Linked DNA regions of Homo sapiens: region 1 is linked to region 2. The links come from fine-mapping of genetic effects on gene expression. A gene starts in region 2. The other region holds a variant in brackets. All regions are shown on one strand. Distances are from middle to middle.

The links. PIP is the estimated chance that this variant, and not a neighbour inherited with it, causes the effect. A credible set is the group of variants that fine-mapping cannot tell apart.
Region 1: its variant is the best candidate, but not a certain one, in a credible set for the expression of LINC02771 in tibial artery (GTEx, PIP 0.65).

The regions. Positions count from the first base shown.
Region 1 is chr1:212,443,505-212,448,879 of GRCh38, forward strand. NENF (neudesin neurotrophic factor) reads left to right here. Exons shown (of 4, transcript NM_013349.5): 3 at 835-938; 4 at 2,326-2,875. The coding sequence ends at 2,502. Among named protein-coding and RNA genes, the nearest start is that of NENF, 13 kb to the left of the region's middle. The variant T/C (reference allele first, on the strand shown) is at 2,493.
Region 2 is chr1:212,469,693-212,475,067 of GRCh38, forward strand. It overlaps LINC02771 (long intergenic non-protein coding RNA 2771), which reads right to left and starts at 3,186. Exons shown (of 3, transcript NR_183725.1): 1 at 2,985-3,186. RefSeq lists enhancers at 1,890-2,390, 2,391-2,891.

The DNA of each region.
Region 1 (5,375 bases), 26 kb before region 2:
GCCTCAGCCTCCTGAGTAACTGGAATTACAGGTGCACGCCACCATGCCCAGATTTTTGTATTTTTAGTAGAGATGGGGTTTCACCATGTTAACCAGGCTGATCTTGAACTCCTGACCTCAAATGATCTGCCCATCTTGGCTTCTCAGAGTGCTGGGATTACAGGCGTGAGTCACCGCACCCAGCCTGCATCTCTAATATTTTTAAGAGACTATTTTCTCAGTATTAACACTTAGGTGAAAAAACAGAACGAGAAGGGGGCTAGGCACAGTGGCTTATGCTTGTAATCCCAGCGCTTTAGGAGGCCAAGGTGGGCAGATCATGTGAGCTCAGGAGTTCAAGACTAGCCTGGGCAACATGGTGAAACCCCATCTCTTCAAAAAAAAAAATACAAAAATTAGCTGGGCATGGTGGTGGCACATGCCTGTAGTCCCAGCTACTCTGGAGGCTGAGGTGGGAGAATTGCTTGAACCCGGGAGGTGGAGATTGCAGTGAGCCAAGATTGTGCCACTGCACTCCAGCCTGGGCAAGAGTGAGACCCTGTCAAAAAAAAACAACAACAAAAGAGGTTGTAGGGGTACTATTCTCATTTTATATTTTCTGAAAATCCCTGCTCAGCCTGCATGTGTGACTTACTTCACATTTAGAGTAAGTGGAATCCAACCTGATGGCTGGGGTGGCTTACTGGACTTTGTATCGCCATTGTTTGGCCTCTCCGTGAGCGTGGAGTCTTTTTTAGGATTGGGTGCGGGCCTTGGGAGCGCCCCCACGTGCAAGCTCCTGGTTACTCTGCATGTAAACCCACGCTTACGTCTCTTCCTTCCTTCCCACTACAGAGTTTTATGGACGAGGAGCCCCCTACAATGCCTTGACGGGGAAGGACTCCACTAGAGGGGTAGCCAAGATGTCCTTGGATCCTGCAGACCTCACCCATGACACTGTGAGCCAGATTATAAGCCTTTGTAAAATCCTCTACCTCCTTGTCCATGCCTTTTTCTCTTTTTCTTTTTCTTTTCGTGTGTGTGTGTGTGTGTGTGTGTGTGTGTGTGTGTGTGTGTGTGTGTGTATCTGGGCAAGAGCAAGCCTTCCTAATTAGCTTATTTACCCTTCGGTCCACTTGGTATGGTGGCCAGGCATTTTCTTGAAATAGATTATCCTACCATGTCATCTCGACTCAGAAACCTTCCATGGCTGTCTGTTGCCTAGAGTCAAGTCCAAACTCTTATGAACTTGTGATCCAACTCAGTGATCATCACAATTTGGCCCCAACCTGCTTTGGCAACCTAATGCTCCTTATGGTCTGTACCTGCCACCCCATCCCCTCAGCCCCTTACAGCCTTGCTATTAGTCTCTGAGACCCATTCCCCAGGCCATGCTTGGTAGCTTTGTGGATGAACTGGGTTGGGAAGAAAGGTCTCCCTCTATGCTTATATTTCTGTGAAGGAGAAGATAGCATTAAAACATTTTTTAGGCCAGGAGTGGTGGATCATGCCTGTAATCCCAGCACTTTGGAAGGCAAAGGCAGGTGGATCACCTGAGGTCAGGAGTTTGAGACTAGCCAGGCCAGCATGGAGAAACCCCGTCTCTACTAAAAATACAAAAATTAGCTGAGTGTGGTGGTGCACACCTGTAATCCCAGCTACTTGGGAGGTTGAGGCAGGAGAATCGCTCGAATCCAGGGGGCGGAGGTTACAGTGAGTTGAGATCATGCCACTGTGCTCCAGCCTGGGCAACAGAGTGAGACTCCATCTCAAAAAAAAAAAAATTTGTTTTTTAAACCTATTCAAGGTCTAAATAATTCCAACAGTAAGGCTGGAATTTCCTCTAACTGTGCTCAACATCAAACTGACATTGAGATAAATTGAGATGAGCCAAACTCATAACAAAATGAATGTAACAATATTACAAAAATGAATGAAGAACTTAAGAAAGGGGAAGGTGCCAAATGTATAATGGGAGGAGTGTAGAGAGAGGGATAATGGGAGCAGTGTAGAGAGAGGGAGGATTAATCGGGGGGAGGAAGGGGATGCAGATGCAATAGGGCATGCCCTGCCCCACCCCAGCATGCTCTCTGGAGTCTTTCATCCCTTCCATCAGTCAAACCACAAAGTGTGATGAAGCATTGCTCCCCGTATGTTATACCCTCCCACCCCCACGCCCCCCCCACAGCAGTGTCTCTTAAGCCATTTGTCCATTATTTGGTTTGTTGAGATATCTTTTCTCTTGCATTAGGGATGTGGGAGGCAAGGCAGGGATGGAGAAAGGCCAGTGCCAAACACTATCCACTTAACCCCATCTCCTGTCTTTCTTGGGCTTTTCTCCCCAAGACGGGTCTCACGGCCAAGGAACTGGAGGCCCTGGATGAGGTCTTCACCAAAGTGTACAAAGCCAAATACCCCATCGTCGGCTACACTGCCCGGAGAATTCTCAATGAGGATGGCAGCCCTAACCTGGACTTCAAGCCTGAAGACCAGCCCCATTTTGACATCAAGGA[T/C]GAGTTCTGATGTTCCCCCTGCAGGAGCAGGTTCTTGGGAGCGTGAGGCAGGAAGACACTAGGTGCTGAATCTCCTGCAAAACTGGCTGCCTGGAGGCCCTGAGCCACCCAGATCTGAATAAAACAGATGCTTACCCTGGAAGAGCAAATGCCTCCTGTTGTCCTTGGTCAGGGGTTCTGTCTACCTGGGGACCCCTGTCTGCACACCAGGGATCAATAAGAGCCAAAGTGGGACACCTCCTAGATGTCAGTATCAGCTGGCTGGGCAGTGGAATTTTGAGCGACCTTTACTTTATACTTTTCTGTGCTTGACAGATTTTCAGCCATGACCATGTTCACTTTATAATCAAAACAAAAATAAAGGTCCCATTTTTACAAAAGGAGAATTCTTCCCCAGAGGCCATTTCCTTGGAGCCCACATAAGCGGGTGGGCTGTGTTGTTCTTCCATAGTCCTGCGGGGCCGGATGGTGGGGCATTTAGGCAATGGGCAGGAAAAGAGAGTGGTGAGGTGGGAGGGTGGGCGATGGGAAGGGAGCCAGGAAACCCGGCTGGAGTGAGGGTGGGAACTGGCTTCAGTGCACGTGCAGCTGGAGATTGGTGAGGAGGGCCGGGGTCAGTGTGGGCAGAGCCTGGTGGAGGTCATTCCAAGAACGGGAGGCATATTCCTTATGCTGGACTGAGGTCAGATTTTAAGAGGAAGCCCCTTTTGTTAGAGTGGGCAGATTTTTCCCTCTGGGGACATTGGGTGATGTCTGGCAACATTTTTTTTTTTTTAATTTTTGTCTGTCATGACTGCAGGATGCTACTGGCATCTCGAGGCCAGGGATGCTGGTCAACATTCTGTAATGCACCTGACAAAGCATCATCCGGTCCGAAATTTCACCCATACTGAGGCTGATAAATACTGTGTTAGATGGATCCTGGACATTTTACAGTGGAGATGAATTTCCTTGACATAAAACTTGTATTTTATTAAAATAAATAGCAACTGCCCCCAAGAGAGAATTTTCACATTAAGCAGAATAATCTGTTAAGGTGATTGTTCAAAATGTTGACTCCTGGGCCCCACCTCCTAGCGCTTAGGATTCAGTATTTCTAGAACATGGCCTGGAACAGTGCTTGTAGTGAGCTGCTCAGGAAGTTGTGATACAAACAGGCCCAAACACACTTTGAGACACCACCTTATTGCCTTATCAGTCATCGCAAGGACAACTCAGATCCTTTTTGAGGGCAAGGTTTGACCTTTAATGTGTTCCAGGGCTGGGGAGTCTAATGGTAAACCTCTGGGTTGCACTGAAGAAGATGGGAGCTTGATGGCCATCCAAGAGTAACGCGCTTGGATCTTATCAGATAGGACTTTTTGGCCTAGAATTCTAGAAGTTGCTTATGCAGCCAAGGTTGTCTGTAGCGGACATTTTGCCCCAAAACAGGATGTACAAATAAATACAAATGGTGTCCAAGTCCTTGGGAATAGTCGAGAGATGACTTCTTTTACTTATGTGCCCACCACTCCCTACATCACTATGTAATGTGGGGTGGGAGGGTGGGTAGAATTCCACTCCTTAGACACAGATTTCTGCAGTGAATCAAGGTCTCCAAATTCAGGCTCTGGGAACTTCCCAACACCACTGTTTGCCCCACTCCTCACCTTTGCCCCCATGAAGGCAGTTTTCCCTCATGGTCTCAGGCTCACCACCCCTCCCAGGATTACCCTGCCCAGTTCCCTGAGTGCACATCAAAAGCTGCCAGCCAGCCAGGACAGTGTGCAAGAAATCGGCAGCCTGTGTGGGCTCTAGAAAGGGTGGGTGCAACCCCAGGGGAGGAGGCACAGGCCGGCCTGAGGATTCTGCATCATTGAGGTCTGCAGGGCCTAAAAGTCTCGCACAGACCCTGGGAGGCCTGAAGTCCCTGCGTCATGTGCCCCCTGCTCCTATGTCTATTTATAATGTTTTTCTTTTTCTCTGAAGGCTCATATCCTCCTTTTAAGACTCAGCCTAGGTGCACCTGTACCAGGAAGCCTTCCCCCTCCTGTGTGATCCCCTTAGCCTAGACTCACCTGCTTTGCTGTGATTGCCTGTTTGTGAGCCTGTCTCCTTCAAACAGGGGCATCTTATGGGCCCAGCACACTCTCCTACAGTGACCAAACTTTCTTTCTTTTTTTTTTTTTTTCACTTTTCATTATCTTATCTCATTGGAAATTATACATAATGTAAACGGTAGAACGTGATTCACTGATTTTTTTTTTCCTTAGTTTAATACAAGTGTGCTTCACTTTAAGCAAAATATACTAAATGATTTCTGAGACAGGAGTTTCCTTACTTTTTCAGTTAAAAAGATTTGCTTACAGAATTTCTTTAAATAACAAGGCTTCTTTGGCCGGTTTAGAGTATTCAGATCACAGAAATTGATTTCACACACAACTTCTTTGAAATACCTACATTGCATAAAATGAGGCACACAGATACATGTGCCCATTCCATCGAGATTGCCTCATTATTTTGTGTTATTTTATATTTTTCATTTTGTCATTATTAACACTTTAGCATACCAGGTTCATTCACTCTCTATTTTAGTTGAGATGAGTTAGTGTTTCTAAGGAGTGTTTCGTAATCTCTTGTCCCAAACTAGGCTAGTTTGGGAATCCAGTGAGAGTGACTGAAAACTGAAATTCAAGTCCTGAACATCCTTCCAGAACACAGCCTATCACCCTGTGGAGATAACACACAAACTATCTCAGAGGACCCCCACCTGTGGAAGTGAAAATCATGTGAGAGTCATAGTTCAAAAGAAAAAAGTGCTGGGCACCGTGGCTCATGCCTGTAATCTCAGCACTTTGGGAGGCCGAGGTGGGAGGATCACTTGGGCCCAGGTGTTTGAGGCCA
Region 2 (5,375 bases):
GGCAGAGGTTGCAGTGAGCCAAAATCACGCCACTGCATTCCAGCCTGGTGACAGAGTGAGACTCCATCTCAATAAATAAATAAACAAAATAATAATAAATACATCAATATTTTATTAGAACCTTTCTGATGATGGTGAGCATGTGTCTGCTGTACCTGGAGGGCCTGGGGTGTGGTGTGGAGAAGTCAGAGCCTGTGTCCTGGTCTGCAGGAGAGTTTGACCCTATTCTGCCCACACCTGTCTGACTACTTTCTTCCTCAAATTTTTCCAACCTGGATCTTCTAACTTTTTCACCTTCCGTCTCCAGCCACTGTCTGCAATCTCCTCAGACACCTCTTGGTTAGCCCATGGCAGCCCCAGACCCTTGCGGGCAGAGCTGCTGGACTCATTGCTCTGCCTGGGAGGGGCCTGGGCCTGAGTAGCTCAGTGCTGCGCTGCCCTTGCCCTGCGAGCATGTACACTCGCCAGGCAGTCCCGGATGAATCACGCCCCACACCGAGTAGTTAGCCCAACTCGCAACAGAGGCCCTGTGTGCTGCTTTTGTGTGTAGTGTTTCTTTCCATTCCGTGAGTCAGAAAACACCGTCACGCAGCCATGTGATCTCCCTATCTTCTGCCAAGGAGCTATGTGCAAAGGATTGCTGGAAAACCCTCGAGGGATGAGGGAGGGCAGCCGTGACTGCCAAGAGGGAGGCTGAGCTGAGAGAACTGGAGAATGGAAGTCATCTCAGGAAAAGAGCGTTCCGAGGGGCTCTGGTGTGGTGAGACCAGAGACCCGCCCACAAAGGCAGCTGCTGGTGGGTGAAGGGCCCTACCTTGGCCACGTGTGGGTGGGATCTCTACCCCCTTGACCCCTGGAGTATAATCTGATTATTTTGTCTAATTGTAAATGGAAAGCTTGCTTATACAAAATTCCAGATCGATACAGAAAACTATAAAAAAGAAAGGACATATCTCCCACCTGCCACCACCAGATGCTGTATTAATCCAGTGAGACATTTTCCATTTGCCTTTGGGCGTGGACCTGCCAGGCTCCGGTCCATTGAACTCCATTGAGCTCCTAGCTGCAGCCCAGGTCTGTTCCTGCCCCGGTCCTGGGACTCTGTCCTTCCAAACACCACAGGGAGAGGTTCTCATCCCAACTTGGCCATTAGCTTGCTGTGTGCCCTTAGACAAATCACTCTGTCTGAGTCTTATTTGTCTCTTCAGTTAAAAATGAGATAATAGGGCTGGGCACGGTGGCTCACACCTGTAATCCCAGCACTTTGGGAGGCCAAGGCGGGCGAATCACCTGAGGTCAGGAGTTTGAGACCAGCCTGGCCAACATGGCAAAACCCCGTCTCTACTAAAAATACAAAAATTAGCCAGCCATGGTGGTGGACGCCTGTAATCCCAGCTACTTGGGAGGCGGAGGTGTGAGAATTGCTTGAACCCGGGAGGTGGAGGTTGCAGTGAGCCAAGATGGTGCCACTGCATTCCAGCCTGGGCGACAGAGTGAAACTGTTGCAAATAAAATAAAATAAAATAATAAAAAAATGAGATAATAATTGGGCAGACTTGTTGAGAAGGTGGAAGGCATGGGGAGATATGAAAATAACTGCAACATCACAAAAATCTCTTCAATGTATGAGAAGTGCTGGCTTGATGCCCTTTTCCCTGCCTCAGCTCATTTAACCCCAAGGGTGGTGTTGAGCCCAGCTCCTCTGCTCCACCATTGACTTGTCCATGTTGGCCGAAGGCCTTCCCCAGACACCCTAGGATTGGCTTAGGGCAGGGAGGTCTCAGGCTGTGGTTCTGACTGACCACTGAGACCCCATCCCTGAACACTGGCCAAGCCCTGGGGCCGGCACTCACCTGGTTCAGAAGAACTCAAAACCCTGTTTTGTTGCCAGTTTGGAGCCAAAATAACTGTGCCCCCTCCTCCCCCATGCAGGCACTCATCCCCACCATGGCTGGAGTAATAACCAAAGCCGTTCTTGCTCAGAAGCCTTTTCTGATTTCAGAAACCTTTGTAACTTTCCCAACTTGTTGTGTTATCTTTAGATTGTAGTGATTCTTGTAAAACAAAGGGTTTGCGTACTTACCCCAAGGATAATTAATGACACTATAAGAACGTTAGTTCAGCTGTTTGCAAACCACTCCTTGTATTCATTTCAGTAACACACCTATGAATTTATATATTGGAAATCATCGCCATTCCCGCCTTCTAGAAGAGTAAAAGGGGGCTCAGGGGACAAACGTCTCTTAGTATACAATGAGTATTCTGTGAGCCTATTTCCCATGCCTGCCTCCTGGCTCTGGGAGTGCGGAGCCAGCTGCAGGCTCTGTTCCCACTGGCCCACACCCGTCTTCAGGCAGGAAGTCCCCAGGACCAGCACAGCCCCTCCCCACACAGCGGCCTTAGCAGGGAGGGGTTCAGCCCCTCCAGGCTGATCCAGGGCTCAGGGCCCAGGTGGGTCGCTGCAGCGAATCCCCTCATTGGGCTCATCATCACCCGTGCTCATAGACTGTCCCCATGTAGATTCCGCAGATGGTGAACCTTCAGCTACCAGTGTGTGCGTCCAAGACTTTTCCACAAAAACAAGACATCGCAGAAACTCTCCCCGCCCAGGTTGTGTGTCTGGGCTCCAGCCTCAGTTCCCTCAATCTGAGGTCCTGCTCCCATTGTGTGTCCCTTGAACCCTGTCCAGGAGATGGACAGAGGCTGCCTGCCTGCTCCCGTTTCCACACCCTGGCCCCAGGATGCATCCTTCTGCCTACTGGACATTAGCTGCCACTTCCACCTGCAGCAAGGAGCCACGGTCACAAACCTTAGGCCCTGGGCCCTGCCTGATGGGTGAGACCATCCTTGTTGGTGGGGTCTCAGACTTGGTACCCGTCTCTGGTCCATCCTGATTTACTTGAAGGACACAGCCATGCCTCCCTACAGGCAGCAGCCGAGCAAGGACTCTAACCCAGGTCCTTTCGTGCCAGACCCCACATTACCTTGTTCATACTGTGGCAAGGACTGTGGAGCCAGGGTCCCTCAAAGCCAGCCTTGGGGTAGAGAAGAGAGGTGAGCTATGAAGAGGTGAGACAGCAGGCAGGTCCTGTGGAAGGCAGGAGGCCTCACAGTGGGAGAAGGTCAGTGAGGGTGATGGAGAAGTGGATTTGGGGAATCAACCAGGAGGGGCCCTGTGGGGCTCTCAGACCTATGGCCACTCTGGGGCTGCCTAGAGACTGTCATAATAACCACAGTCATTATGATGATGGTAGGTAGTATTTAGTGAGCATTTACTATATGCTGAGTATTGGATTACCTGCCTTCCTGTATTACCTTATTTTATTCTCATGGTAACCTGCTGAAATAGGAGCTATTATTATCTTCTGCTTTACAGGGGAGGCCGCTGACCCTTGGGGAGGCTAAACAACCTGCCCACAGGCATTCTCTCATAAGCAGATCTGAGATGAAAGTCCAGGCTGCCTGATTCCGGGCCCCACTCTCTCTGACTTCTAGAATTATTTGCTTCTTGGAAAAAAACAAAACCACCCTGCCCAGATGGTGGGGAGTTGGGGGTGTCAGGAGTTTCAGTTTTGTAGAGGAAAGATAAGTGCATTTATGTGGTTTCCACACAGAGGCATACCTTTGATTGTAGGGTCTGGAGAGGGGCCCTTTTGGAGAAGGTCATCTTCCCTGAATGAAGACGCAGCTCTGGTTGGAGGGGCCTCTGAGAAGCAGCCAAATCAGTCCTGCTAACCCACAGGCCAGTGAGCCATGGCCAGACCACTCTCCCATTCACAGAAAGTGGGTCTGTGCCTGGGATACACGGAAGAATAAGTTCAGTACATTCAAGGCCAGGCATGGTGGCTCATGCTTGTAATCCCAGCACTTTGGCAGGCCGAGGCAGGAGGATTGCTTGGGGTATACCCGTGGGCTGCCAGCTGGTCCAAGCAATGGGTGAGAAGGTTCAAGACCAGCCTAGGCAACAAAGCAAGACCTCCAGCTCTAAAATAACAATAATAATGATAAATAAATAAATTCAATACATATGCCAGGCCTTGTTGGTTAGAGACCAATGCTTAAGAGCCTGCGGAAGAACAGCTTACGACCACTCTGTGGTTTTTCCTCCCCATTTGGCTGCCTGAGCGGTGCAGTGGGAGCTGCAGATCAGGCTTCAGTAGGCAACAGCTGAATAGGCGAGAGGGTATCTGCACACCTTCTGGCCAGTCTTGACCTCGGGTTGGGTAGCAGCGAGCCTTGGGGTTTTCATGAACAGGTGACTGGGCCAGGTGCAGTGACTCATGCCTGTAATCCCAGCACTTTGGTTGGCTGAGGTGAGAGGATCGCTTGAGGTCAGGAGTTTTGAGACCAACCTGGGCAACATAGCGAGACGCCATCTGTATTTAAAGAAAAAGAGAGAGAGAGAGAGAGAGAGAGAGAACAGGTGGCTTAAGATAGGCAGGTGAGGAGCGGGGCCCTCAGTGTGAGCCAGTTATTGTCCATGCAGCCCTTTGGCCAGCCCTAGCTCTGCTGCAGTGTCTGGATCCAAGGGCTTCCCTCATGTGCTGGCTCAGCCTGGCTCCTCTGCTCCTTCACAGGTCCGCGGATCAAAACTCTTTTTTCGTATTTCCTTGAACAAACCATAGGTTGTAAAACTGCTGCAAACAATTATTGTGAAGCCAGAGGGAGAAAATATTAAGATATGTGGTGCTTTAACTTTTTGACTGGACTCACAGTAAGAAATGTATTTTATATTGTAATCAAGTGTGTACACACACACACACACACATATACACTCAGATACACACAACTAAAACAGAAATTTTCTTGAAACAATTATTAATTGTACTATATGCAATACACTTCATGTTTTGTATTTCATTCAATTTCATTTAAATAAAATGTGATTTGAGATGCTAGTTAGTGGGTCATGAAATCAATTTAGAGACTCTCAAACTACATTAAAAAACACCAGGTTAGCTGAAGATGCTGATAGCTAGAATAACGAACAGACTGAATAGTTCATCTGTCTTGACTCCCCCTGGGACCTGAATTTTCTGAGGTCAGAGGCTGAGCCCTCCCTGTAAGTCCTAATGTGGGATCCTGCACCCATTAACCTTCTGAAAATACAGACACTATGGCAAACACCAGGACTCCAAGCAGAAAGGGGGTCCAGGGGAGAAGGCAGGAGGTGCCTGTCTTCAGAGTTAACATTTCGTTGGGATTTATTTAGCCATAAAATGACTTCCAGGGAACAGGAAACAGGTTGAATGAGGCTAGAGAACAAGATGAGGACATTAGAGGCAAAACACTCCCCAAAGCTGTTCTGAGCATCCTGAGCATTGCTGTGTGATCAGCACAAAGAGGAAGGAATAGCGAATGGTTAAGAGGATAGA